2 separate regions of the Homo sapiens genome follow, and region 2 is linked to region 1. The links come from fine-mapping of genetic effects on gene expression. A gene starts in region 1. The other region holds a variant in brackets. All regions are shown on one strand. Distances are between the middles of the regions. Region 1 holds the start of DGCR8 (DGCR8 microprocessor complex subunit). Region 2 overlaps TANGO2 (transport and golgi organization 2 homolog).

What was found.
Region 2: its variant is fine-mapped to the expression of DGCR8 in whole blood (INTERVAL, PIP 0.96).

What each region holds. Positions count from the first base shown.
Region 1 is chr22:20,070,320-20,084,451 of GRCh38, reverse strand. It overlaps DGCR8 (DGCR8 microprocessor complex subunit), which reads right to left and starts at 4,211. Exons shown (of 14, transcript NM_022720.7): 1 at 4,069-4,211. RefSeq lists enhancers at 670-1,288, 3,393-3,452 and a silencer at 3,713-4,332.
Region 2 is chr22:20,035,146-20,051,631 of GRCh38, reverse strand. It overlaps TANGO2 (transport and golgi organization 2 homolog), which reads right to left. Exons shown (of 9, transcript NM_152906.7): 2 at 14,778-14,872; 3 at 8,189-8,277. The coding sequence starts at 14,833. Among named protein-coding and RNA genes, the nearest start is that of MIR185, 10 kb to the right of the region's middle. RefSeq lists a silencer at 12,925-13,086. The variant C/T (reference allele first, on the strand shown) is at 9,312.

The sequences.
Region 1 (14,132 bases):
GAAGCAGGGAAGATGGGTCTGAGGGGGCAGCCAGAAAACCCTGCATCAGAGCAGAAGGAACACATGCAGACACACGCACATGCACACTCCCACAACGTGCACAGGAACACGCATGCATGCACATGCGTGCATACCAGTAAAGATGCACACATGCAAACCGCACTGCATGACCTAACATCCTCCCAAGATTCCCGGAAAGAACAGGAGATGCAGACATCACACATTTAACAAGGGACAAGGCATGGTGGATGTACTTCGAAGGGGACACAACATGAAAACCAGAGACTAGTTTAGGTTTAATCAATACATTTAACAACTATCCACTGGCCATCTACTCCGAGGAACGCACTATATGGACAAGAGACAAGGTCACAGGGCCTGGACACACTGGCAGGTCAATGACCACTGCACTGTCACCCCATTTCCTGGATTCTAAGATGTCCTAACATTTCTGAATCTAATGGGAATTTCACACCGTATGTTCCCAAAGATGTGTCCATCAAAGGTGCTGAGGATCCAGGAAACACAGCACAGAGCTAACAACTGACTATAAAGTGCTGAAGACGCTCAAGAGGCTGTGGGCAGCAACCAGGCAGGCATGAGGAACACTAAGTGGGGTGAGGTCAGTCTCCTGGCAACCAAGAAAGACCATTAGAGAAAACAGACCGAGGGGTCAATGCGCCCAGTGCCACAGATTACAAGGAAGACCAGGGCCACACACCTCAGAACCTGGCAGTCCCATAGAGACCCTGGTGAGTCAATCCATGATTCTGGGACACAAAAAGCTACATGAAGAAGCCACAAGGAGCAGGGGATTAGAGACCAACAGTGGGACGGAATGGGGAAGCCTGCTACCACAGAAGGCGAAGAAGCAGCTAGAGTAGACGTTCCAAGCAAAGGTGCTAATGGGGCCAAGCGGCGGCACTGAAGAAATGCACAGCAGGAAAGCCTGGTGCCTTACAAGTGAGTGAGCTCCTTAGGAAAGCAGGAAACCTGCCCAGCCCCAGACCTCAGTGGTGGGCAGTCCTGGGCAAGTTCCTTCCTCCCCTCTATAAGCTTTCTCCATTCATCACACACACACACACCATCCTAGATGCTACAGACACAAGGTGGACAAAACCCTGCCCTACAGAGCTCACATTTTAGTGGGGGAGATGGACCGCTAACAACTAAGAAAAGCATGCACCCTGTCACATGCCAAGAAGTATTCAAGCAAAAACAAAACAAGGAAAGCGCCTGAAGAAGGGGAGGCAGTTTTAGGAAGGGGGATCCAAGAAGGCCTCATGGCCTGCATCCACGTGAAGGCAGGAGTGAGCCAGGTGGGTTACAGGGCTGGGAGGAGGGGATGTTCCAGGTGACACTGAGAGGAAAAGCAGAGGGCTGGGGTCAGGAATGTGGTGTGGCCAGCTGGGGCAGTGTGCTGAGGGGACGTGACAGTGGGCCAAGTCCATGAGGGCAGATGGATCAGGGCTGGTCCTCCCAGGCTGCTGCCAGGACTTTGGCTCTTAGTGAGAGAGATGGGCCACCGGATAGGAAGGCCCACACAGTGGCATCAGCTGATTCCAGGATAGCAGTGGCAACCAAACCTCAGCCAGGCCCTGTTCTAAGCACTTTAAGCATTTTAACTCACCCAGGTCTCACATAGCATTATGGAAGAAAGGTTCACCCACATGCTCAAGGTCATACAGCCAGGAAGTGATGGAGCTGCTTTACAAGCAGGCAAGCTGGCTTGCATCTACACCGCCTCTGTTTTATACCATCTTATGGTTTAAAAGAACCACTCTGGGCCGGGCGCGGTGGTGCACGACTGTAATCCCAGCACTTTGGGAGGCTGAGGCAGGCGGACCACAAGGTCAGGAGATCGACACCACCCTGGCTAACACATTGAAACCCCGTCTCTATTAAAAATACAAAAAATTAGCCGAGTGTGGTGGTGGGCGCCTATAGTCCCAGCTACTCGGGAGGCTGAGGCAGGAGAATGGCTTGAACCCAGGAGGCGAAGCTTACAGTGAGCGGGAGATCGCACCACTGCACTCCAGCCTGAGCAACAAAGCGAGACTCTGTCTCAAAAAAATAAAAAGAATCACTCTGTGGCCAGGCACAGTGGCTCACGCCTGTAATCCCAGCGCTCTGGAAGGCTGAGGCAGGCAGATCATTTGAGGCCAGGAGTTCGAGACCAGCCTGGCCAACATGGTGAAACCCCGTCTCTACTAAAAATACAAAAATCAGCCGGGCGTGGTGGTGGTGGACGCCTGCAGTCCCAGCTACTTGGGAGGCTGAGGCAGGAGAATCGCTTGAACCCGGGAGGCAGAAGTTGCAGTGAGCTGAGATCACGCCACTGCACTCCAGTCTGGGCGACAGAGCGAGATTCTGTCTCAAAAAAACAAAAAAAAAAAAAAAGAAAGAAAGAAGAATCACTCTGTGTCCAGAAAAACTATAGATGGTGGATGGGGAGTGAGGACCTAAGGTGACAGTAAAGAGAATTAGAGGCTCACCAGGTAGGCTGGGCCAGGATGTTAACTTGAAGGTGGTGAGAAATGGTCTGTGCTTAGAAATAGGTGAGCTGACGGGGCCTCCTTAGGACTGCATGAAGGTGTAAGAAAGAGAGGAATCAAAGGGACTTTAGATAGGCCAAGGAATGTTTTGGCATGGGTGAAGATTTGAGTTTGGTTTGGATATGGCTACTTGGCGCCAAAGTAACACATGGAGATATGGAAGAGGTGGCCAGAAACACCAGGCTGGAAATCAGAAGAGAGGCCAGGGCTGGAGCTGTGAAGATGTCAAGGAAAGCTGGCATTAAAGTCAGGAGGCTGGGTGACATCACAAAGGAGAGGGCTACAACAAGAGAGTCTAAGACTGGGCAAGCCAGCCAGAAGCACATTTCCTACCCCAAGGTCACGGTGAGACTACAAAACAACCCCTGGGAAGTGCTCCACACAGCGCCTGGCCGCAAAGGGCTCAAAGGGGAGCTCTCTGCCCGTAGGCCTCCCCACTGCTCCAGCTGACCAAACACCGCATGCAAACCCTGCCTTGCCAACAGGACTATCGGACAGGAACGGGCTCACGGCAAGCTCCCCTGGACCCTTGGCACGGGGAGAAAACCCGTACACTTGGACAGCACCCTTCCTCCTAGCCCACTTGCTGTGTTGGCTAACAGAGGCACTGGCTGTGACGGGCCAGCACCAGTGCCAGCGCCATGGAGGCTGCCTTTTGGTCAAGTCTCTCCCGCTGCAGCCTCCCGCCCAACCCAGCGGCAGTATGACCTCATCCGTTCCTTTTGTCATCCTCCAACAGGCCTCATATCCCGCACTTAGAGGCAACACTGGGTACCCCGGGCTGGCCATTCACTCCCTTTTGTGAGTGAAGGCCTGCAGCAGGGTTTGGGCCACTCCCACAGCTGGGAGTCTAGTCTGGCCAGGAAACAGTGGATCCTCGCCTGGTGGTTGGCCTCGAACAGTCGACAGCCAAAGACAGGACTGCCGTGCAGGAACAAGGTACATGCAAGCATGCAAAAAGGCAAATCAGACTCCTGCCACAAGAAACCCAAGTCCATCGGTTGACACCAGACAGGCATCACTGTCAACAGGTTGCCACCTTCCATTTATTTCCGCCATGCTCATTGTTACAATAAAACCGTATCCCAATTATCTACGTGACACTCAACCCGTGAGCATTCTGTGGACAAAAAGACTTAGGCGACTTCTTGGATTTCCCAAACTGTGTTAAAGCCGGCAGGGTCCCAGGCGAGCACTGGCCCTGTCCACACCTTTCCCGCCTGAAGGCGATGCTAGGCTTCGGGCCCTCCGGGAGAGGAGCCTCTTTACCCGGGCGGACAGCGACGAGAGTCGGCAACGCCTGGGCCCGGGGCCCGCCCCCCAGCCCCGGAGGCGTCCCCACCCCGCGCTCTCCACCGCCCGCGGCCATGTTGCCTCACAAAGGCCGGGCTCCGCGCCCCCGCCCCGCCCGCGGCCTCGGTCCCGGAGGGAGGCGGGAGGGAAGGGCGCGCCCTCGCGCAGGCCGCGGCGCCCGCCCAACCGCCCGCGGGCGCCCCTCGCGCCCCGCACCTACCTGAGGCGCCCGCGGGCTGCCCAAGCCGCCCGCAGCCAAACCACAGCCGGGAAAGCCTCACCGACCGACCGCCGCAGCCATCTGGAAAGCCTGTCCAGGCTCTCCGGTCGCCGGCACCCGCCTGCCGCGCCGGGCGAGCGGAGGGCGGGCCTTCGCGGCGTGCGGCCAATCCCCGCGCGCGGCCGCCCCGCATTGGGGGAGCCGCAGAGCGCGCTGCGGAGGCCGCCAATCGGCGGCGCGTAGCGCGTGTGTCCGCCGCGCGCGGCCCAATAGCGCGGCCGCGCGGGAGGGACCAGGCGCCCAGGCCGCGGTCGCGCTAACAGTCGCTGCCCAGGCGGGGCTCGCTGGACTGAGGGCGGCGGCCGCGAGGAGCGCCGGGAACGGGAAGCACCGGGAATGCCGGGAGCAGGGGAGCGCGGGAAGCTCGGGGAGCGCGGGGAATGCCGGGAACAGGGAGCGCGGAGTACGCCGGGAGCGGACACGCAGACGGGCCACCTTCGGTGGACACTGCAGAAGAGACCGTGCACACACAGGCGTTACACAACCCTGTTAAAAGCATCACTGTATCAGACATCATCATTTATAAAGAACGCGTGTGCTCAACTGTCTGGCGCTGTCCCCTTTGCTAATACAGGATTTCCAAAACAGGGAGGGTTCGGCCGGGCACGGTGGTTCGGCCGGGCACGGTGGCTTGCGCCTGTAATCCCAGAGTTTTGGGAGGTCGAGTCAGGAGGATTACTTGAGCCCAGGAGTTCGAGACCAGCCTGGCTAACATAGTGAGAGCCCAGTATCTACAAATTTTCTTTCTTTTTTTTTTTTTTTTTGAGGCGGTGTCTCGCTTTGTCTCCCAGGCTGGGGTGCAGTGGCGCGATCTCAGCTCACTGCAACCTTTGCCTCCCGGATTCAAGCGATTCTCCTGGCTCACCCACCCGAGTAACTGGGATTACAGGCGCCCACCACCACGCCCGGCTAATTTTTATATTTTTGGTAGAGACGGGGTTTCACCATGTTGGCCAGGCTGGTATCAAACTCCTGGCCTCAATTGATCTGCCCGCCTCGGCCTCCCAAAGTGCTGGGATTACAGGCATGAGCCACCGCGCCGGGCCCAAAATTATTTTTAATTAGCCGCGTGGTGGCGGGCGCCTGTGGTCCGAGCTACTCGGGAGGCTGAGGTGGAAGGATCACCTGAGTCCAGGAGTTCCAGGCTGCAGTGATCCGAGATAGCACCACTTTCACTCTAGCCTGGGCGGCAGAGTGAGACTCCGTCTCAAAAAAAAAAAAAAAAAAAAGGAAAACGAGGGTCTGAGTAAGTGAGGGTACAGCTCTTCCTTAGACTAGCTTTCCTGTCAATAAATGTGGAAGGAATAGTGGAAATAGAAAAATTTTCCACTGGGTAGCCACCCCAATAATAGCTGCTGTAGACGAAAATCTTGAGTGATAAAAATAGTGGGCCGGGCCCTGTGGCTCACGCCTGTAACCCCAGTACTTTGGGAGGCCGAAGCAGGCGGATCACCTGAGCTCAAGAGTTCCACACCAGCTTGGGCAACGTGGCGAAACCTTATCTCTACTGAAAATACAAAAAGTAGCCAGGCGTGGTAGCAGGCACCTGTAATCCCAGCTACTCGGGAGGCTGAGGCAGGAGAATCGCTTGAACCCGGGAGGTGGAGGTTGCAATGATCTGAGATCGGGCCACTGCACTCCAACCTGGGTGACAGAACGAGACCGTCTCCAGAAAAAATAGTGAGCAAGGCCAGGCACAGTGGCTCATGCGTGTAATCCCAGCACTTTGGGAGGCCGAGGCGGGCGGATCACTTGAGGTTAGGAGTTCGAGACCAGCCTGACCAACATGGTGAAACCCTGTCTCTACTATAAATACAAAAAAAAATAGCAGGGCTTGGTGGCAGGTGCCTGTTGTCCCAGCTACGGAGGCTGAAGCTGGAGAATTGCTTGAACCTGGGAGGCAGGAGTTGCAGTGAGCCAAGATCCAGCCACTGCACTCCAGCATGGGCAACAGAACGAGACTCGGTCCCCGGCCCCCAACCCCCTACAAAAAAATTAGGCCAGGCACAGTGGCTTACGCCTGTAATCCCAGCACTTTGGGAGGCCGAGGCGGGTGGGTCACGAGGTCAAGAGATCAAGACCATCCTGGCCAAGATGGTGAAACCTCGTCTCTACTAAAACTACAAAAAAAATTAGCTGGGCATGGTGGCACGTGCCTGTAGTCCCAGCTACTCGGGAGGCCAAGGCAGGAGAATCACTTGAACCTGGGAGGCAGAGGTTGTGGTGAGCCGGGATCACGCCACTGCACTCCAGCCTGGGTGACAGAGTGAGACTCCATCTCAAAAAAAAAAAAAAATAGTGGGCAAAAACATGACAAACAGGTTTTGTTTTGTTTTCAGTGTTGCAAAGTTTCTCCCCCAGGATACTAATTGCCTAGGGAAAATAGTAGTTTTAGAGTGGAAGAAAACTTGGGCGACACCACCTTTAACCAAGCCATCAAGGTCACCAGCAAACTTAGCAAATTGTACCATTTAAACATGTGTATTGCATTGTATATAAATTCTGCCTCAATAGAAATGAAAAAAGTTAGTTCCAGTAAGAGGACATACTGTGGACCTCCTGAGAAGAACACAAGTTCACTTGTGGGTATTTTTGCCCAAAAGGCAGAATCTGAATGAAGAGCAGACAAACCCCAAATTAGGGGCATTCTGCAAAATTACCAGCCAGTGCTTTTCAAGTATCGAGATCATTCAAGTCAAAGATGGACTGAGGAGCCATCTTCAATTAAAAGAGATAACAAAATGCAGTGTGGAATCCAGACGATAGATGGGATCCTGGCTCAGAAAAGGGACATTAATGGGACAATTGATATAATTCAAACAAGGTCTGTAGATTAGTTAATACTATTGTATTGGCCTGGCGCGGTGGCTCACGCCTGTAATCCCAGCACTTTGGGAGGCTGAGGCAGGCAGATCACGAGGTCAGGAGATCGAGACCATCCTGGCTAACAGGGTGAAACCCCGTCTCTACTAAAAATACAAAAACATTAGCCGGGCATGGTGGCACGCACCTGTAGTTGCAGCTACTTGGGAGGCTGAGGCAGGAGAATTGCTTGAACCCGGGATGCAAAGGTTGCAGTGAGCTGAGATCGCGCCACTGCACTCCAGCCTGGGAGACAGCAGGAGACTCTGTCTCAAAAAAAAAAAAAAAAAAAAAAAAAAAAAAAACAAACAGTAAAAAGTATCGTGTTGTTGTATTGACAAAAGATTATTTGCTTGGCCAAACTTTAGTCAGGCTCCTAAATCTTCTAGGCCCGTCTGAGAATTCCAGTTTAGCAAGAACCACCCTGCTTTTGATATCTGATCGCCCTCAATACTGATGAAATTCCTCATCCCTCCACCATCCTCTAGGTGATGTCTGATCACCCCAGCCTGTCTTCAGCAAGAATCCTCTTAGGTCAGCTTAGCCAGTATCCCCCTTATCACTTATGTTTCTTCTTAGTAATTTTTCATCCACTGACCCCCGCCCTGCTCCTTGGCTATCAGTTCACACTTGTCCATGCTGTATTCAGAGTTCAGCCCAATCTCTCCCCTGCAGCAAAACCCCATTGCCTGTGGTCCATATGCCAGTGGCAATGCTCCTGAATAAGGCCTTCCCGACCGTGCTTTGACAAGGGCTGAATAATTTTTTTCTTTAATGGTTGTGGTGCCACAGGCCTCTGACCCAGGACTCTCAATGTGCAACTTTGCAGCCTTTGTCTTCTGACTGGCTGATTGGGGATCTACTGGTGAGTCAAACTCCTGAGCCATGACTGTAGAAAAACTTTTATTTTAGCTGGTAAGGACAGATTTTGATTTTTAAGGTCCCAGCCTTCTTTTGAAAGGTATAATACTTCCTGGGTTGGAAGGTCTTCCTTGTGGCTCTTCATTCTGAATGGGGATTCACTCCCTGACTCCTGGGCTGGCAGTCTTTTCTTCCCACTGTGAGGCCTCTCTGTTCTCTCTATTGGATCCTACTTCTCCCATCGGAACTTCTCAGTCACCTGAATCCCCTTTCCTCAAACCCCTTCAGACTATATACTCTGCCAACTTTATTTATTTGTTTGTTTATTTATTTATGTATTTATTTAAGACAGAGACTCACTGGGTCACCCAGGCTGGAGTGCAGTGGCGCAGTCTCGGCTCACTGCAGCCTCCACCTCCTGGGTTCAAGCTATTCTCCTGCCTCAGTCTCCAAGGTAGCTGGGACTATAAGCGCACGCCACTACGCCCAGCTGATTTTTTTGTATTTTTGTAGAGACCAGGTTTCACCATGTTGGCAAGACTGGTCTCAAACTCCTGGCCTTAAGTGATCTGCCTGCCTTGGCCTCCCAAAGTGCTGGGATTACAGGCGTGAGCCACTGGGTCTGGCCTCTGCCAACTTCAGTTGCAGAGCAACTACATATGTATGTTTGTATGTTATATATACATGATATTTTTCTACCTCCAGATAGTAGCACCAAATTAATTTATAAAATCCCTTAAAGGAATAACTGACTCTGTGCTAATATATATAGCAACTGGTTGTTCCAGAATGAGAAAGAAAAAAAATGTAGGGGAAAAAAAGTACTGATAGATTTTTTTTTTTTGAGATGGCATCTCTCTGTGTCACCCAGGCTGGAGTGCAGTGGCAAGATCTCGACTCACTGAAACCTCTGCCTCCCGGGTTCACGCCATGCTCCTGCCTCAGCCTCCCGAGTAGCTGGAACTACAGCTGCCCGCCACCATACCTGGCTAATTTTTTATATTTTTAGTAGAGACAGGGTTTCACCGTGTTAGCCAGGCTGGTCTCGATCTCCTCACCTCATGATCCACCCGCCTCGGCCTCCCAAAGTGCTGGGATTACAGGCATGAGCCACCGTGCCCGGCCAGATATTTTTTTTAAGTTGTAAAAGATCTATAGAAAAGAAATCTTGGAAAAGAAATATTATCTTGCATGAGATTGGATGGATTCATTTATAAGGTTTTGTTAAAATTAGCTTTATTAGTAGTGCTATGATGCAGAACTTTAACTTGATCTTCTCTGTTGAAATGACAAAGTTTTCTTACAGTATTTGAGATTATGAAGATTTCTGTTTACCTTTTATTATTATTATTATTATTTTACTTTTTATTTTTGAGACGGAGTCTCACTCTGTCGCCCAGGATGGAGTGCAATGGCACGATCTCGGCTCACTGCAAGCTCCGCCTCCTGGGTTCACGCCATTCTCCTGCCTCAGCCTCCCGAGTAGCTGGGACTACAGGCGCCCACCACCATGCCCGGCTAATTTTTTGTATTTTTTTAGTAGAGACGGGATTTCACTGTGTTAGCCAGGATGGTCTCGATCTCCTGACCTCGTAATCCGCCCGCCTCGGCCTCCCAAAGTGCTGGCATTACAGGCGTGAGCCACCTCGCCTGGCCTCTGTTTACCTTTTAAATAATTGACCTTGGAAACAAAGATTTTTGTGTTATATCAAGATAGTTCCTTGTTCTTCATATTGTCTTTTATTAGGTTTTTGATTACTTAAGAAATGTGGCTGGGGCCAGGCGCAGTGGCTCACACCTATAATCCCAGCACTTTGGGAGGCCGAGGCGGGCGGATCACGAGGTCAAGAGATTGAGACCATCCTGGCCAATATGGTGAAACCCCATCTCTACTAAAAACACAAAAATTAGCTGGGTGTGGTGGTGTGTGCCTTTAGTCCCAGCTACTCTGGAGGCTGAGACAGGAGAATTACTTGAACTCAGGAGGCGAAGCTTGCAGTAAGCCAAGATCGTGCCATTGCACTCCAGCCTGGGTGACTGACACTCCGTCTCAAAAAAAAAAAAAAAAAATTTCCAGAACTCTTTTTTTTTTTTTTTTTTTGAGACATAGTCTTACTCTGTCACCCAGGCCAGCATGCAGTGGTGCAATCTTGGCTCCCTGCAACCTCTGCCTGCCGGGTTCCAGCGATTCTCCTGCCTCAGCCACCCAAGTAACTGGGATTACAGGCGCCCACCACCACGCCCTGTTAATTTTTATATTTTTAGTAGAGACAGGGTTTCACCATATTGGCCAGGCTGGTCTCAAATTCCTGGCCTCAACTGATCTGCCTGCCTTGGCCTCCCAAAGTGCTGGGATTACAGGCGTGAGCCACCACACCTGGCCAGAATTTCCAGAACTTGAATGAAGACACTGAGGGGTTCGTGAAACTGCTGATCAAGATCAAACAGAACAAGAATAAATTACATGGCAATGAATAAACCAATTACAATTATTTATTTATTTAATTTTATTGTAGAGATAGGGTCTCACTATGTTGACCAGGCTGGTTTCAAACTCTTGGCCTCAAATGATCCTCCCATCTCAGCCTCCCTAAGCATTACAGGTGTGAGCCACTGTACCCAGCCAGGATAATTTTTTTATGTTTTGTTTGAAACATTGCTGGTTCTTTAATGTTTTGTTTTCCAGATTTAAGGAAACTTTTTTTTCTCTTTTAAGTTATCCATAGCTTACAGCAGTTTGGTAAAGTATGCCTTTGTAAACAAAAGTGAAACAATTACTTTTTCTCTGTACCTTATCCTTCCATAATTCGGAAACTATTCATGAGTATTTTTATTTTAATGGCAATATGGTTATTTACATAAGTTCAGTAAGAACCTGTTCTCTTTGTAACAGGACACAATTGGAAATGCTGTTTATATTACCAAAGCTTTGACTAGAATGCCATATTTTTAGCTATGGCCAGACAACTTTAAGTAACTAAGATGACTTTATGGAACCAATAAAGCCCTTGGGGAAAAATGGGTTTTAAACCTTGAATACATGGGTCATGTGGTTGCCTTGTAGGTGAGTAAGGAAAGTCACTTCCTGACAGGCCCAAGGATGTCAGGATATTTTGGGGGACCTCAAAAAGAGAGGAATTCACCCAAACCTATAATGATTGCAAATGAAGTATGATGGTGAAGCTTCGGCTTGGCTTCCTAGCCTGGCAAGGCTTTTAAAAGCCCAATCTGAGATGCCTTATTAAAAGTCCTAGCAGGCTGGGCACGGTGGCTCACGCCTGTAATGCCAGCACTTTGGGAGGCCGAGGCGGGCGGATCACGAAGTCAGGAGATCAAGACCATCCTGGCTAACACGGTGAAACCCCATCTCTATTAAAAAAAATACAAAAAAAAATTAGCCGGGCATAGTGACGGGTGCCTGTAGTCCCAGCTACTTGGGAGGCTGAGGCAGGGGAATGGAGTGAACCTGGGAGGCGGAGCTTGCAGTGAGCGGAGATCACGCCACTGCACTCCAGCCTGGGCGACAGAGCGAGACTCCGTGACAAAAAAAAAAAAAAAAAAAAAAAAGTCCTAGCAAAGGAAACTTAAAGAAAGCCTATGTGTTCAATCACTATTGTTGCGGCACTTATGTAAGTAATTAGGCCAAGTTTAATCAACCTAAACTTAGCTACAAACAAATTAGTCTTACTTCAACATCTTTGATAGAAGTGGGGTGACTATATAGAGAAAAATTAGTTTCAGAAGAAAACTATAGTGCACCCATTATCAGATTCTAGCCCTGTTCATTGTTTTTGAGGTTTTGATATTTACCTACAAACTGGATTGGATCCTGAATTCTTCTAGTTTCCTCCAATATTTGATTTTCTCTAAACTGATGTTTCCAGTTTTTTTCCCACCCTTCTGGCCTGGAACCGCTAAAAATTAAAACTTCCCATTTCCTGAAGCCCTTTAAGCTGAACCCGGACAACTTGATAGAAACTTTAGGCCAGGCACGGTGGCTCACGCCTGTAATCCCAACACTTTGGGAGGCCAACGTGGGCAGGTCACGAGGTCAAGAGATTGAGATCATCCTGGCCAACATGGTGAAACTCCGTCTCTACAAAAATTACAAAAATTAGCTGGGCATGGTGGTGTGTGCCTGTAGTCCCAGCTACTCTGGAGGCTGAGGCAAGAGAATCGCTTGAACCTGGGAGGCAGAGGTTGCAGTGAGCTGAGATTGCGCCACTGCACTCCAGCCTGGGCAACAACAGCAAGACTCTGTCTAAAAAAAAAAAGAAAGAAACTTTAAGATGGCACCACAACAGATAATTTGTGGGCAGACTTCATGACACGCAAACTGCCGTCCATGATAGTCTGTTAGCCCCTACTCCATCTGAAGATGCTTCAAGCACAGCACCTGGAAATCTTGAGTAGCTGCCCTCTGAACTCAGAAACTGAGTTTATAGTTGGTTCCAACTAATATCTTTTTCTTTTATCTTCAACATGCAACGCCTGATGGCTCACACCATGGAGGATATCTCCTCTACTGCCGGTCCCAGCAGATGATTCAGCTGGCCTTTAATGAACAAAAGGCAGCCCAGCAAGGAAATGGACTCGTACTATTCAAGGAAAGATAACCTCTTCTTTCCTTGAACAAGAGGAGGGACCGACAAAGATTCTTTGCTTGGCCAAACCAGGCTTCTGAACCTTCTTCTAGGCCCATCTGTGCACTTCCTTGTAAATTTCACTTAGAGCAAGAACCCTGCAAAGTCACTTTAGCAAGAAGCATCCCCTGACCCTCGACATCTGATCACCCTCCTTATCTAATCCGTTCCTACACTGTCCCCCAGGTGAAGATGTCCGGTCACTGTGGCCTGTCTTCAGCAAAAATCCTGTTAATTGGTGTAGCCAGAATCTCCCTCACCCGGGGTGTTTCTTCTTAGTCATTTTCCATGTGCTGACCCAGCTCCCACCGCCCTGCTCCTCAGCTATCATCAGTTCCCACTTGCCCATTCGGACTTGAGCTTAATCTCTCTCCCCCACTGCAGAATCTCATTCCTGTGGTCCCTAGACCTAGCAAGACGGTCCTGAATAAAGTCTTCCCTACAGTGCTTTAGCAAATGTCATTCAGTAATTCTTTCTTTAACATTATCAGTGTTAATTTCCTGGTTGTAATCATTTTTCTGTGATTGGGTGCGGCATTCACATTTGGGGTAACTGGGTGAAAGACACTAGAATTTTTTGTTCTACTTTTTAAATCCTTTAGTAAATTGAAAAAAAAATTTTTTTTTTTGAGATGGAGTCTTGCCGTGTCACCAGGCTAGAGTGCAGTGGTGCCATCTTGGCTCACCGCAACCTCTGCCTCCTGGGTTCAAGCGAGTCTCCTGCCTTAGCCTCCCAAGTAGCTGGGATTACAGGCACCTGCCACCATGCCCAGCTAATTTTTGTATATTTTGTAGAGACGAGGTTTCATTTTTTTTTTTTTTTTTTTGAGACGGAGTCTCACTCTCGTCACCCAGGCTGGAGGACAATGGCATGATCTCGGCTCACTGCAACCTCTGCCTCCCGGGTTCAAGTGATTCTCCTGCCTCGGCCTCCCAAGTCGCTGGGATTACAGGCAGGTGCCACCATGCTCAGCTAATTTTGTATTTTTTGTAGAGACAAGGTTTCTCCATTTTGGTCAGGCTGGTCGCGAACTCCTGACCTCAGGTTATCTACCTGCCTCAGCCTCCCAAAGTGCTGGGATTACATGCATGTGCCACCATGCCCAGCTAATTTTGTATTTTTCGTAGAGACAAGGTTTCTCCATTTTGGTCAGGCTGGTCGCGAACTCCTGACCTCAGGTTATCCACCCGCCTCAGCCTCCCAAAGTGCTGGGATTACAGGCATGAGCCACCACGCCTGGCCATTGAAATCATTTCTAAATGAAAAAGTTTAAAGAAAGTGGGGAGAGGAATGTTGCAGATGACAAAGCTGTAGGCCTGCACGGGCCTCCCCCACCACTTCAGCACCAGACACCTCACAATGGGCTCCATGCCCTGGAGGGTCTGGGTCCAGGACTCAGCTAGGGGATGCCAGCCTCCCTGTGGCTGGGCCAGTCAGACCCCAGCACATGGCCATTCAACCAAAGCAACCTCTCACACTTGGTTGATTGGTGAGTTGGAGGCTCCAGTGGCCCCTGTCAGACTTGAGACCTCAGACCTGCCCACCACAGCCAGTTTCCCACACAGCCTGGGACTGACTGGGTGACGGAGAAGGATCCTTACCATGGAACTAGCCAGGTCCAGCCCCAGGGTTGCAAA
Region 2 (16,486 bases), 34 kb after region 1:
GATCCTCCCGACTCAGCCTCCCAAAGTGCTGGGATTACAGGAGTGAGCCACTGCACTGGCTAGGATGTTATTTTATTTATTATTGTTATTATTACTTTTTGAGACAGAGTTTCGCTCTTGTTGCCCAGGCTGGAGTGCAATGGTGTGCTCTCGGCTCACTGCAACCTCTCCCTCCTGGGTTCAAGCGATTCTCCTGCCTCAGCCTCCTGAGTAGCTGGAATTACAGGCATGTGCCATCACACCTGGCTAATTTTGTATTTTTAGTAGAAACGGAGTTTCTCCATGTTGGCCAGGCTGGTCTCGAATTCCCAACCTCAGGTGATCCGTCCGCCTTGGCGTCCCAAAGTGCTGGGATTACAGGTGTGAGCCACCGTGCCTGGCCCTAAGATATTATTTTTATAACAATAATTAATTATAACAGAAAAAGAAAAGATGTAAAGATCAAAAATAAAGAAATAAAACTGTATTTGTGGCCCCGTGCGGTGACTCACACCTGTAATCCCAGCCCTTTGGGAGGCCGAGGCGGGCAGATCACCTGAGGTTGGGAGTTCAAGACCAGCCTGACCAACATGGAGAAACACCATTTCTATTAAAGATACAAAATTAGCCAGGCGTGGTGGTGCATGCCTGTAATCCCAACTACTTAGGAGGCTGAGGCAGCCTATAATCCCAGCTACTCGGGGGGCTGAGGCAGGGGAATTGCTTGAACCCGGGAGGTGGAGGTTGCAGTGAGCCGAGATCACACCATTGCACTCTCAGCGAAACTCTGTCTCAAAAAAAAAAAAAAAACCCAACAAAACTGTATTTGCAACCAGCAGGATCATATATGAAGAAAACCCAAAAGGAATACCAAAACCGATGTATTAGAACTAATAAGTAAATGCTAGCAAGAACTGGAAAGTGAGCATTTAAATATACCATTTATAACAGCATTTTTAAAATCCTTAGTGTGATTAAAAAAAAAAAAAAAAGCCGGGTGCAGTGGCTCACGCCTGTAATCCCAGCACTTTGGGAGGCCAAGGCGGGCGGATCACGAGGTCAGGAGTTCGAGACCAGCCTGGCCAATATGATGAAACCCCATCTCTACTAAAAATACAAAAATTAGCTGGGCATGGTGGCAGGCACCTGTAGTTCCAGCTACTCGGGAGGCTGAGACAGGAGAATTGCTGGAACCCGGGAGGTGGAGGTTGCAATGAGCAGAGATGGCGCCATTGCACTCTAGCCTGGGCAACAGACCAAGACTCCGTCTCAAAAAAAAAAAAAAAAAAAAAAACCACCAGGAAAATATTTAATGAAAAATGAGTGACAAAGACTGAAAACTCCAGGGCACTGTTGAGGGTCTCAAGTTGAGCTGACCTGATTTAAGGAGAGACATGCATATTCACTGAAAGATTCAATAGTGTTTTTTTGTTTGTTTTTGTTTTTTAGAGTCTTGCTCTGTCGCCTAGGCTGGAGTGCAGTGGTGTGATCTCAGTTCACTGCAAGCTCCGCCTCCCGGGTTCAGGCCATTCTCCTGCCTCAGCCTCCCAAGTAGCTGGGACTACAGGTGCCCACCACCACACCTAGCTAATTTTTTCATATTTTTTTAGTAGAGACAGGGTTTCACCGTGTTAGCCAAGATGGTCTCGGTCTCCTGATCTCATGATCGGCCCGCCTCGGCCTTCCAAAGTGCTGGAATTACAGGCGTGAGCCACCGTGCCCAGCCTCAACAGTGTTTCTTCTTGTTATTATTTGTTTCACTGGGTACTTCTTAGACAACTCAGTATTGTTAAGGTGACACTTCTCCCCACATGACCCATAGATTCAAAACCTGCCCAGTCAAAATCCCAGGGGGCTTTTCGTTTTATAGCAATTAACAGACTGGCTGAAATATCTATGCATATGCAAAGGAACTGGGATGGCCAAAATAGTCCCGAAAAAGAAGGCAGACCCACATTGCCTGATTTCTTTTTTCTTTTTTTTTTTTTTTTTGAGACAGAGTTTCGCTCTTGTTACCCAGGCTGGAGTGCAATGGCGTGATCTCAGCTCACCGCAACCTCCGCCTCCCGGGTTCAAGTGATTCTCCTGCCTCAGCCTCCCGAGTAGCTGGGATTACAGGCATGGACCACCACACCCAGCTAATTTTGTATTTTTAGTAGAGACGGGGTTTCTCCATGTTGGTCAGGCTGGTCTTGAACTCCCAACCTCAGGTGATCTGCCCACCTCGGTCTCCCAAAGTGCTGGGATTACAGGTGTGAGCCACAGTGCTCAGCCTGATTTCAAGACTTACTAAAAAGCAGCAGCACTCATAGACTGCATGGTGTTGGCATCAAGACAGATACATAGATCAATGGGATACAACAGAGTCAGGAATAGACCCACACATATATGTTCAACTGATGTACAACCAAGTTGCCATAGTAATGAACTAGGCAAAAGATAATCCATTTAATAAATGATGCTGGAACAACTAGAGAGATTTGGGGGTTGGAGGCAGTAAATCTCAACCCCTACCTCACACCATGTACAAAACCTTGAGATAAATCATAGACCAAACATAAAAACAAAAATTAGGCTTCTAGAAGCAAATGGAGGAAAATATTGTTATATATTTTCCTCTGGGTAGGCAAAGACTTTTTGGATAAGGCACAAAAAGAACAACTCATAAAAGATAAGATAAACTGTACTTTGTTAAAATGAAATATTCTGGCCGGGCGCAGTGGCTCACGCCTGTAATCCTACCACTTTGGGAGGCCAAGGCAGGCAGATCAAGAGGTCAAGAGATTGAGCCCATCCTGGCCAACATGGTGAAACCCCATCTCTACTAAAAATACAAAAATTAGCTGGGCATGGTGGTGCATGCTTGTAGTCCCAGCTACTCAGGAGGCTGAGGCAGAAGAATCACTTGAACCTGGGAGGCGGAGGTTGCAGTGAGCTGAGATCGCACCACTGTACTCCAGCCTGGCAACAGAGTAAGACTCCACCCACTCAAAAGAAAAAAAAAAAATTCTGCTCACCATAAGCTATCATTAAGGAAATGAGTAGGCACAAAGGACTCATATCCAGAATGGGTAAATAACTCTTACAAATCAATAATTAAAACAAGAACAAAACTTCCAAATTGCCCAAGCAACAAGGACCAGATTTACCCTCCTGCATAAAACAACCAAAAAATAAATAAATAAATAAAACTCAAGAAACAATGGTGTATTTATTAGTCCATTCTCATGCTGCTACAAGGACATACCCGAGACTGGGTAATTTATAAAGGAAAGATATGTGACTCATAGTTCAGCATGGCTGGGGAGGCCTCAGGAAACTTACAATCATGGCAGAAGGGGAAGCAAACATGTCCTTCTTCACATGGTGGCAGGAAGGAGAAGTTCCAAGCAAAGCAGGAAAAGCCCCTTATAAAACCATCAGATCTTGGCTGGGAGCGGCAGCTCATGCCTGTAATGTCAGCACTTCGGAAGGCCGAGGCAGGCGGATCACCTGAGGTCAGGAGTTCGAGACCAGCCTGGCCAACATGGTGAAACCCCATCTCTACTAAAAATACAAAAATTAGCTGGGCGTGGTGGCAAGCGGCTGTAATTCCAGCTACTCAGGAGGCTGAGGCAGGAGAATTGCTTGAACCTGGGAGGTGGAGGTTGCAGTGAGCCGAGATCGCACCATTGCACTCCAGCCTGGGTAACAAGAGCGAAACTCAGTCTCAAAAAAAAAAAAACAAAACACTATCAGATCTCATGAGAACTCACTATCATGAGAATAGCAGCATGGGGGTAATGCCCCATGATTCAATTACCTCCCACTGGGTCTCTCCCAGGACATGTGGGGATTTGGGGAACTATAATTCAAGATGAGATTTGGGTGGAGACACAGCCAAACCATATCAAATGGGTTTTACAAAAAAGGATATGACAGACAGGAAACAAAGTGAGCCCATGATTAGAGAGGCTCCAGGACCCAGCCCAGGGAGTGGGGGGACCAGGCCGAATTCAGCAGACTCCCTGAGCTGAGAAGAGGGGCTTAGTGTTTGGGGAAACTAAGACAACCAGAGTTCATGGCTGCCATAGTTTGGATGTTTGTCCCCCAGACCTCATGTTAAAATCTGATCCCCGGGCTGGGTGAGGTGGCTCACGCCTCTAATCTCAGCATTTTGGGAGGCTGAGGCGGGTGGATTGCCTGAGGTCAAGAGTTCGAGACCAGCCTGACCAACATGGTGAAACCCCGTCTCTACTAAAAACACAAAAAATTAGCTGGGCATGGTGGCAGGCGCCTGTAATCCCAGCTACTCAGGAGGCTGAGGCAGGAGAATTGCTTGAACCTTGGAGGCGGAGCTTGTGGTGAGCCGAGATCGTGCCATTGCACTCCAGCCTGGGCAACAAGAGTGAAACTCTGTCTCAAAAAAAAAAAAAAAAAACAAACAAACCAAAAAACTGATCCCCAGTGTTGGAGGTGGGGTCTAATGGGAGACAGATCTACCTAATGGCAGATCCTTCATGAACGGCTTGGTGTTGTCCTCACAGTGATGAGTTCTAGCTCTATTAGTTCCTTTGAGAACTGGTTGTTTAAAAGAGCGTGGCGCCTCCTCCCTCTCTCTGGCTTCCTCCCTCCGTGTGTGATCTGCACATACCACCTCCCCTTCCCCTTCCACCATCAGTAGAAGCTTCCTGAGGCCTGCATCAGAAGCAGATGCTGACACTGTGCTTCAGGTCCCCTGTAGAACTCTAAGCCAAATAAACCTCTTTTCTTTATAAATTACCCAGCCTTGTGGATCACTTGAGGTCAGGAGTTTGAGACCAGCCCAGCCAACCTGGTGAAACCCCATCTCTACTAAAAATACAAAAATTGGGCTGGGGGAAGGATAGCGTTAGGAGAAATACCCAATGTAAATGATGAGTTGATGGGTGCAGCAAACCAACATGGCACATGTATGTATACCTATGTAACAAACCTGCACGTTCTGCACATGTACCCTAGAACTTAAAGAATAATAATAAAAAAATACAAAAATACAAAAATTAGCAGGGTGTGGTGGCAGGTGCCTGTAATCCCAGCTACTCAGGAGGCTGAGGCAGGAGAATCACTTGAACCTGGGAGGTGGAGGTTGCAGTGAGCCAAGGTCGCACCATTGCACTCCAGCCTAAGCGACAGAGCAAGACTCTGTCTCAAAAAAAAAAAAAAAAAAAAAATTACCCAGCCTTGGCTGGGCACCATGGCTTATTATCTGTAATCCCAGCACTTTCGGAGGCCAAGAAAGGAGGGTCACTTCAGGCCAGGACTTTGAAACCAGCTTGTGCAACACAGCAAGGCTTTGTCGCTACAAATTATTTTTAAAAATTAGCTGGGCATGGTGATGTGCACTTGTAGTCCCAGCTACTAGGGAGGCTGAGGTGGGAGGATCACTTGAGGCCAGGAGTTAGAGGCTGCAGTGAGACAGGATTGTGCCACTGCACTCCAGCCTGGGCAACAGAGTGAGACCCTATCTCAAAAAAAAAGAAAAAAATTACCCAGACTCAGCTTTTTCCTTTAGAGCAACACAAACGAACTAAGACAGTGGCACAAAAGTCCAGAGAGGAAGGAGCTACACAGAGAATGTCTGATCAGCATCTCAGGGAGGAGACTATATGACACTGGGGCAAGAACCACCAGTGCTCACACAGGGCAGGGAGTAGGGCTGGCTCCCAGACACCAGGCTGGAAAACCTCAAGATCTAGGGGCACCGAGAAAAGTACGCAGAGAGCATCGCAGAGGTGTGGGACAAGGGCAAGTGAACTAATATATGTGTGTAACTGGAGAGAAGGAGAGAGTGAGAGAGAAGACAGAAAAACTACTTGAAAAAGTAATGGCCGCTGGGTGCAATGGCTCATGCTTCTAATCCCAGCACTTTGGGAGGACAAGGCGGGCGGATCACCTGAGGTCGGGAGTTCAAGGCCAGCCTGACCAACATGGAGAAACCCCATCTCTACTAAAAATACAAAATTAGCCTGGTGTGGTGGTGCATGCCTGTAATCCCAGCTATTAGGAAGGCTGAAGCAGGAGAACAGCTTGAACCCGGGAGATGGAGGTTGCGGTGAGCTGAGATGGCACCATTGCACTCCAGCCTGGGCAACAAGAGCAAAATTCCATCTCAAAAAAAAAAAAAAAAAAAAAGAAGTGATGGCCAAATTTTTATGAATTTAATGATTTTGATTTGCATTTCTTTTCTTTTTTTTCAGACAGGGTCTCACTCTGTTGCCTAGGCTAACTGCAGTGGCTCAGTCTCGGTTCACTGCAGCTTCTACCTTCCAGGCTCAGGCGATCCTCCCACCTCAGCCTCCTGAGTAACTGGGACAACAGGCATATGCCACCACAGCTGGCTAATTTTTTTTTTTTTTTTTGTAAAGACAGGGACTCACTACGTTGCCCAGGCCGGTCTCAAGCTCCTGGCCTCAAGGGATCCTCCTGCCTTGGACTCCCAAAGTGCTGAGATTACAGGTGTGAGCCACCGGCCCAGGGTGATTTCATTTCTAACAAGTTCTCAAGTAAAGCTGGTGCTACAGGCCCAAGGACCACACCTGGAGAACCACTGTCCTAAACTTTTGCATACAATCCGGTGACGCCAGAGAGTGAGAGGATGTGGGCCTTAGTGATATGGTCACCCCGACACTTGGCAGAAGCCCGTGTACATCCATGCACCAGCTGCCACCATCAAAACACCACAGGGGTGAACAATTCCACAAGACTGGAGCTGCTGGGGTTGGCACTAGTTCAGAGGCAGCTGACAGACCTGGGTGCCAGGGTGGGATGGAGCCCAGGAGGGCACAATAGTCAAGGAACCAGAAGAGGGTAACCCTCTGAGCCGCCACATCTTCATCTATGAAAACCTTCCACCTTCCAAGGACATCAGTCTTGTGCCTTCACCCACCCGTCCTGACCAGCCCTGCACCCACTGCATCCTCCTATACCAGCAGGCCTAGGACCACCCTGCCTCAGTCTCCATGCACCCGTCCTCCTCCCACACGGTGCCGGGACCACCCAGCCTCAGCAGCATTCTCACACTACTGCCAGGCCACAGGCCTACACAGGAGTCCTCACAAAACCCCACAGCTGAGCTTTTATTTGATTGATTGATTGACTGATTGAATGAGACAGGGTCTCGCTCTGTCACCCATGCTGGAGTGCAGTGGCACAATCTCAGCTCACTGAAACCTCTGCTTTCCGGGCTCAGGCAATTCTCTAGCCTCAGCCTCCTGAGTAGCTGGGGCCACAGGCACATGCCACCACGCCTGGCTAATTTTTGTATTTTTTTTTGTAGAGACAGGGTTTTACCATGTTGCCCAGACTGGTCTTGAACTCCTGGGCTCAAGTAATCCTCCTGCCTCAGCCTCCTTAAGTGTTGGGTTCACACCTATAATCCCAACACCTGCCCTCCCGGCCTGGGAGGCAGCACAGGGCACACACAGCCTCCATGGGCCCACGAGGTCACACATCTGGCCTGAGTGGGCACCCTGGAGCATGCCAGGATGCCTCGGGCCCACTTGGCGCCTGGTACGCAGGCAGAGTAACCCGTGGCCTCACCAGCCATCTATGCGCACCTTCCAGGTAGACTCCCACCACCCCATGGGCAGGAACTGGTTCCTGTCCAACAGGACTTCAATGAGGCTGGTATCTTTGGTGGGGAGGACCTGGTTCTCACCCCTACTTCTGCCCTATAAGTACACCTAATGCAACACAGGCATGGTGCAGGTGACGGGGCTTCAGCACCACCAGCTTCCCAAACTCAGCCCCACCATCCCTGAAGCAAGGGTGCTCATATACAAACAGAAACACAAACACAGGCACACACACGCACGCATACACACGCATGCACACACTCATATGACTGGGTTGCTTCACAAAGTGACTGAGTGTGGATCTGTACATCACACAAATCCACCCACATGCCCTCAGCAAAAAGGAGGGATCCATATAAAACCAACTGATGCTTTCACATGATGGGGCCCCCATGCAGACGCATGGCACAGGAAGCCACGCAGACAGTGCTGGGTGGGCAGCTCTGGCAATGCCCGGTGCTGGGGCTGGCCCCGACCACGAGCCCCATCAGTTCCACCTCTACACCCCGCCATCACACTTGGAAGCAGCACCACTCAGTTAGGGTCACTCGGGCCACGCAGGGGCTAGGGAAGCAACAAGGCGCAGCCACCGCTGAGCACGCAGGAAGACTCACCACTGAGGATCTCGTTGTTGTTCCCCCAGAAGTCAGCTAACTTGGAGGGTCGGCTGTAGAATTCATCCCTGTTGGCTGCCAAGATGAGCCTGCAAGAGGAAAGCATCACTGATGGCTTCAGATGGAAACGAGCGAGCCAAGTCTTTTTCTCTTTTCACACACAAAACTGGCCTCAGTGGCAACAAGGGCCAGTCTCAGAGAGGGCAGGAAGCCGGCAGTCCTGCTGCACCCACACTGGAGGAAGGAGCACCGTGGCTCCAGGTGAGCTCTCGGGAGCCTGCAGCTGGGACCGCACGGGAAACAGGAGGATGCTAGGCAGGGACACACATCCACACCATTCAATGGCGGGAGACGGGTCTGCCAGGCCCTTAGGGGCACCATGGAGCCTGGGCTCCATGCCGGGAGCCCAGGCTGGAGGGTGGGGGGCTGTTCCTCCTTCTGTCCATCTGTCCCCAGCCCTGGGAACACCCACAACAAACCCGTGGGCTCTTGGAAGCGTGAGCTCAAGGATACAGATTGAATGGCACAGCATGTGGGCCTCTGAGGGCTGCTCCATTCTGTGTGTTTTGGAGTTAATTTCTCGGGTTGGTTGGGAGTGGATGGGAACTTCACTGTTTTACTAGTTTTTTTGCATTATGAATCAAACAAATATTTCCATTTTTATTTATTTTTATTTTTTGAGATGGAGTCTCTCTGTGTCACCCAGGCTAGAGTGCAGTGGCGTGACATCGGCTCACTGCAACTCCCGCCTCCCGGGTTCAAGCTATTCTCCCGCCTCAGCCTCCTGAGTAGCTGGGATTACAGGCACCCGCCACCACACCCAGCTAATTTTTTGTATTTTTAGTAGAGATGGGGTTTCACCATGTTGGCCAAGCTGGTCTTGAACTCCTGACCTCAAATGATCTACCCGCCTCGGCCTCCGAGGCGGAGGATTACAGGTGTGAGCCACCACATCCAGCCTAATCAAACAAATATTTCTTTTGGAATTAGGAGAGACATCTAAACTTTAAGAGCCCTGGTCTTGAGGAAAGAAAACTGACTTTCAAGTCCCAGCTTGGACATTAGAAGAAAACAAATAAGGACACAGCAGTGACTGAGTGGAAGGGGTCAGTTCCTGCAATGT[C/T]CATTAGACCTGAGGGTCTAAGAAGCGATGGCTGGGCCAGGCACAGTGGATGACACCTGTAATCCCAGCAGTTTGGGAGGCCAAAGTGGGAGGATCACTTGAGGCTAGGAGTTTTGAGACCAGCTTGGGCAAGAAAGTAAGACCCCATATCTACAAAAAAAAAATACAAAAATTAGTCAGGTGTGGTGGTGCATGCCTGTATTCCCAACTACTGGGGAGGCTGAGGCAGCAGGATCATTTGAGCCCAGGAGTTTGAGGCTGCAGTGAACTGTGACTGCACCATTGCACTCCAACCTGGGGAACAGAGAAGCCCTGTCTCTAAAAAAAAAAAAAAAGTGATGGCTGAAGACCCCCTGAGCACTTGTGCCGGAGAGGCAGCTCCAAGGAGCAGAGCTCAGCTGTCCTGCCATCACAATCTGAGTCTGAAACCAAGTTGCAGTGGTGAGAGCCCGACAAGTGTTTAAAAATAATTTCCATATTGATCATTGCACATCAATTTCATAAAACAACATTTGCTCCTGATTAAATGTGAAATAACAGACATTCATAAAATTGGGAGTGAAAGTGGTGCTCACAGCTGGGTACGGTGGCTCATGCCTGTAATCCCAGCATTTTGCGAGGCCGAGGTGGGTGGATCATGAGGTCAGGAGTTCAAGACCAGCCTGGCCAAGATGGTGAAACCCCATCTCTATTAAAAATACAAAAATTAGGCCGGGCCCGGTGGCTCACGCCTGTAATCCCAGCACTTTGAGAGGCCAAGGTGGGAGGATCACGAGGTCAAGAGATCGAGACCATCCTGGCTAACACGGTAAAACCCCGTCTCTACTAAAAATACAAAAAATTAGCCAGGTGTGGTGGCGGGCGCCTGTAGTCCCAGCTACTCGGGAGGCTGAGGCAGGACAATGGTGTGAACCCGGGAGGCAGAGTTTGCAGTGAGCCGAGATCATGCTACTGTACTCCAGCCTGAGTGACAGAGCAAGACTCCGTCTCAAAAAAAAAAAAAAAAAATTAGCCGGGTGTGGTGGCGGGCGCCTGTAATCCCAGCTGCTCGAGAGGTTGAGGCAGAGAATTGCTTGAACCCGGGAGGCGGAGGTTGCAGGGAGCTGAGATCGTGCCACTGCACTCTAGCCTGGGCGACAGAACGAAACTCCATTTCAAACAAAAAAGTACATGGTGCTAGCACCCACCATTCATGCCCTTGGAGGCATTCACACCTGTGTGCACATGTGTGCCCCCCACTCAGTGCCTGCCCCTGAAGCTTCTTGCCAGCAGAACTGGGGAAATGCTTTTGGTCATTGCCAGGGACTGTGCCATGCCCTAGAGCCCTTGGGGTCTGCTATGGAAGCCTTACCACCTCCAGGGTGCCCCATTCAGCCTGGTCTGACACCCAGCTGGCCCCAGGGCTGCACCAGGTCTCAGGGATGTGCTGCCTGGGGTAGGGGGAGGTGGTCTCTGTCCCTGATGAGCCTCAGCCTTTGTACCTCTAACTGCCATGTTTCAACCCAGACCCAGCCCAAGTCTCCATGTCCCTTCTGGGCAGAAGTGCCCCCCAACCTCTGCAGCAGGGATGGCAGGAGAGCCCACCTTCCCTGGGCTGGACAGTGCTAGTAGAAGGCAGTGCACTTGCCCCAGACCTGGATGGGCCAGTCCTGTAGGTGCCCATTGGTTGTGTCCTGGCCAGCGGGCAGGAGAAGGGGGAACACCGCAGTCCCTGAGTGCTATGGTGGGGATGTGCCAGGGTCTGGGATGACAGCTCCTCCACCCTATGGGTGGGGTCAAGCTCCATGTGGTTCTGCTCAGCATTCTCTCTTAAATACCTTCCTCCTCTGCTTCCACGTCCCACAGCCCTGCAGGTGAACAGGGGTCGGGGGAGCCAGGGACACCTCATCCCAGTCCAGCCCCAAACCAGGCTGGGGCTGTTGGCTTCGGGTGCTGATTCTGACATAATGCTCTTACAAAGGGAAAATAAAGGGGAGAAAAGTAGGAAGAAAAGCTGACTGAGCATGGACTTTTGTCCTAAGATGTTCAGCTGTCTGTTTTTAAACAAGGAGCAATTATATATGTTTGCCTAATAACTCAGGAACATTAATTGCCAGGTTATTTTTGTTCCAGCAGTCATGTTTAGCTGAATTGCTGGTGGTTTGCCAGGGATTTCATTGAATACATAATTCAGGGACAAGCCAGCATGCTGAGCACCCAGATCAAGCCCCAAAGGGAGGAGGAAGTAGCTCTCTCAGTCATCACTGGTGGGGCTGCACATGGGTAGAAGCCTATCTGCGCCCCACGTCCAGAGAGACAGGGATGCACCCACCACGGTGAGGTCCCTGAGGATGGCAAGTCACCTCGGCTTTATTTTGTTCCAATAACTGAAACCACTAATTATCCATCACCACCTGACACCCACGCTGCTAGGCAGGGTGAGTGCGTGTACTGTCCGGGGGGTATGTGCATCATCTCGGGGGGTGAGTGTGTTCTGCCGGGGGGTGAGTGTGTGCACTGTCTGGGGGACAGTTTGGTGACAGATAGGAGGTACTCTGGCCTGAGATCCAGTGATCAAACCCTCAGTGGTGACCCCATGGAAGCTGTCCCATGGAGTAACAGCTTGTCCTGCAGCCACTCTAGGCTGAAGCCAGCAAGTGGCATCACGTGGGGCTGTAAACAGGCAGGTTTTTTTTCGTTTTTTCTTTTTTTTAAGATGGAGTCTCACTCTGTCATCCAGGCTGGAGTGCAGTGGCGCTATCTCAGTTCCCTGTAACCTCTGCCTCCCAGGCTCAAGCAATTCTCCTGCCTTAGCCTCCCTAATAGCTGGGATTACAGGTGTGCGCCACCATGCCAGGCTAATTTTTGTATTTTTAGTAGAGATGGGGTTTCACCATGTTGGCCAGGCTGGTCTCGAACTCCTGACCTCAAGTGATCCACCCACCTCAGCCTCCCAAAGTGCTGGGATTACAGGCGTGAGCCACCGCACCCGGCTGTAAACAGGCAGTTTTGAAAGAGATAGGGTGACATCATGAAGTGATTGTGTTATCTTGCTGCAGGGTCTTGGTTTTCCGTGATGGGTATCAAATTACCAAATACAGTGGCCGAGGCCGGGCATGGTGGCTCACGCATGTAATCCCAGCATTTTGGGAGGCTGAGGCAGGAGGATCACTTGGGCCCAGGAGTTCGAGACCACCCTGGACAACATAGTGAGAACTTGTCTCTACCAAAAAAAAAAAAATTAGCCGGGCATGGTGTTGTAGTCCCAGTTACTTAGGCATGCTGAAGTGGGAGGATCGCTTGAGCCGGCGAGTTTGAGGCTGCAGTAAGCTATGATCATACCACTGTACTCCAGCCTGGGCAACAGAGCAAGATCCTGTCTCTAAAATAATAATAATAATAATAAAAAAAAAAAACATAGTGGCCTAAAGCACCCTACTTTTTACTCCAGTCCACAGGTGAGGAGTCCAGCCCAGCCTAGCTGGGTACCTGTACGAGGCCTCCCAAAGTGCTGCAGAGGTGCTGTCAGGGGCTCCATAGAAGTGTCTGTGCTCCCAGCCTGCAGCGTGCCCTTCCCCTGGCTGGACACCCCACAGGCAGAGCAGAAGCAGCCACCAGAAGTGTCTCACACCCTCCCATGAAGTCAGGAAAACACAGCGCACATTTGCTCAGTCACCCAGAGGTGGCACATTTCGTCTTTGGCTTAGGGCTTCGGAAAATAGTCCAGAGAAATCCCGAGGCCAACTGGAATGGCAGGACCCGCAGGACAGGTCCTGGCAGCAACACACGGGTTCTGAGTGAAAGCAAGAGGGGCCCATGTCAACCCTCCTCCTCTCCACCCAAGGGGCTGGGTGGCACTGACCAGCACCCGCAGGCCAGCCATCAAGCTTCCTTTCCAGAGATGGGAGCACTCGGGGTGGGTTGAGTCTCTTCAGCAGCCTGCAGGAGGCAGCCCTGAAACGCATACAGAGCTGGCTGGCTCTCCTCAGCGTGCTAGTTTCCTGGGGCTGCCGTAACTAAGCACCACAGACCAGGCGGCTGCAACAACAGACACTATTGTCTCGCAGCATTGGATGCTGGAGATCCAAGATCAAGGCGTCAGCAGGGCTGGCTCCTTTTGAGGGTCTTCTCGGTATGCAGACGACTGCTTCTATCTCTGTATACACACCAGCTTCCCCTGTGCGTATCTGAGTCACCCATCACATTGATTAGGGCCTACCCACATGACCTTATTTTACCTTCATCTTTTTTTTGAGATGCAGTCTCGCTCTGTTGCCCATGCTGGAGTGCAGTGGCGCAATCTCGGCTCACTGCAAGCTCTGCCTCCCAGGTTCACGCCATTCTCTTGTCTCAGCCTCCCAAGTGGCTGGGACTACAGGCGCCCACCCCCATGCCCAGCTAATTTTTTTGTGTGTTTTTAGTAGAGATGTGTTATCCAGGATGGTCTGGATCTCCTGACCTTGTGATCCGCCCACCTTGGCCTCCCAAAGTGCTGGGATTACAGGCGTGAGCCACCGTGCTCGGCCAGCCCCTACATTCTTTAGAGTTCTGTTCACTCACTAGCCAGCCCAACACTACTCCAGTCCCTGTAGCAGTCAATAGTTCTTTCCTAACATTTCTTCCACCTTCCCTGCAGCATGCTGTCTGCTGCTGGGACCTGCCACTCACCCAACTGCAAAAAGGGAAAACACCAGACACCCTTCCTTCCTGATTCCTTGGCCTGAAATGACTTCACTCAGCCTTGAAGTCAAGCAGCATGGTGTCTATGCAACTTTGCAGTGACTCAAATCTGAGACCCTCTTGAAATGGTTCAAATCATTTCTGGTACAGATTTTAAAATGATGAAAACTTCCCGAGCAGTTGCATTAGAGAGTGGTTACACGTTTCATTTTAGATGTGGGTTATATCTCTGCCTCGTTCTCTGTGTGGATAAATGCTGGGGTGTCCTGGGGAATGGAGGTGTGGCCGTCCTGAGTCCAGGGTCAGGGGTGGCTTCTGGCCTCGATTTCCTGACTCCTCTGGCTGGTCCTCAGCGTCCCCTCTTCCCCAGGTTCTTTTTCCTCAGCTCAGGACCCACCCACAGACCCCTAGCCTGGCCGCCACTTTGACTTCTCACCAGCAGCTGTGACCCGCCAGCCCAAGCTGGCTCTCACTCACTGACGCCGTTGTCCCAGTTCTGCCGCCCGACCCTCCTCAAAGCCCATAGAACTGCAGCCCACCTGGACCCATGTCACTCCTCTGTCCTACCTGTGGCTGCCTTCTGTGGCTGAGTCTTCACGTCTTTGTACATTGACTGGAGTCCCCGCCCCGAGAGGCATTCTGACAGCATCCCACACTGAGTGACCCTGTCCTGGAGGGCAGTGCCAGGCCTGTGCAGCCCCGTCCTGGCCCACACACCTTCCTGCACACAGCAGCTTGGGTGGCATGAGAACTGGCTGGGCACCCAGGACCCTGCAGGGCGCAGCAGATGCAGAGCGAGGGGGTTACCTGTACGCGTTTTTGGAAACAGGGCGAGGATCAAACTTAAAGAAGATGATGCACATGGTGGTGCAGGGCGGCTCTGCTGACACAGGTCGCGAGGTCTGCGGGAAAAGGAAAACACTGAGTTGAGCGGATGGCAGACACTCAGGGCTGCCCTCCGAACCTGCAACAGGCCAGAACAGAGAGAACCACCTCTGTGGTGTCTGTACTACTTGCTGGGTGTGGGGGAACTGGACACCACACTCTTGGCCGGTGCCACACAAACAACTCCCAAACCCATGCACTCATTGGCACTGGCCAGACTGTCTCTCCACCACCTGCAACACCAGCCCTGAACAGAAGCATCCCATCAGCACCATGGTAGTCTTAAGGCCTGGACACACCGAGCTGGGGTGCCGAGGGGGTCCCCGGGGGGCAGCAGAAGTGAGGGCAGGAGCCACACTGTGAGAAACAAACTTACCCATCCAAATCTAAAGAATGAACTCAGACCCAGAGAACAGCGAAAGTGAGACTTTTAATGACAGTCTTGCAAGATCAGGTGTCAGACAGGCACACCCAGCACAGTTTCGACAAGCAATTTATCCCCTAGTACGCAGGTCCCTCCCCCAGTTCCTCATAGGCCGAGTACTGTGGGGTCACAATTTTCCCGGACGTCGCCTATTAATTGTTGGGTAGGGGCTTCAGGTGTTTTTTTGGGGGCTTGTCTTGCTGTATTTTGTTGCAGCCCACAATGCATTGCAGTCCTAGTTAGCTCAGGGACTTTTTAAGTATTTAACTTACGACCTAAGTAGCAGGCAGGCTGATAAGAACAGACAAAATGAGCTATTTTGCAGGCTAGTAAACTTTCAGCTTAGACTGAACTTCTTTGGTTCGGGTGAAGGCAACTAAGTGCGGGGAAAGTGGAGGCCGACAAGCACACATCAGCTATCCAAGCAGGGTGGCCTAGTATATCCTGTTTCTTCTGTAGTTTGCTGAGCTAAGCCAATTTAAGACACTTTGTCTTGGAAATAGACCACTGTATACATTCTTCCTTCAAGACTGTCCCCCACATGCACATCTCCTCCCCTGCAACAGCACCAAACCCACCCCACACGCCACCAGTGGGGGCAGCCCTGCCTCCGCCTCCAACAGCATGGCCCACTCACCTGGGATGCAGGCCCTACAGGTCCTGCTCAGCACACACACTCGCCATCCCACAGGACCCGAAGGCCCCACACACCCACAGCAGCTGGCATGGACACGTGCCGGGGACACGCTGGGTGACTGCACACTTAGCATACACCTCGTCCCCACCCAGGGACCTCTGGGGCCCAGAGCAGGCAGTTTTCCACAATGCAAACGAGTGCAGAACGGAGATTAGATTCCGAGGCCACCCAAGGGTGACACCCAAGTTCCCTGAAATGTGCACATGTGCAATGATTTAGTGACACGGCTCCAGGGCAGAGCCAGTGCTCACAGCTGGGACATGGGACAGCCAAGAAGCTGTTCAAATACTGAAGAGACCCAAAAAGATTCCTCTGAGAAAAGTCTAATGAGTGGGGACGGAGGTGAAGAGGGCTCAGTGTATGTGCCTCCATAGGCACGGGCATTAGGGATGGCCATTGGGGACCATCTGCTCCAGTGAGGAGCTGGTGGCTGTGCAGTTGAAGTATTGGGATAGCAATAAGCGCCACGTGCAGACGCACTGGGTCAGGGGGATGGGCAGCCATTTGAGA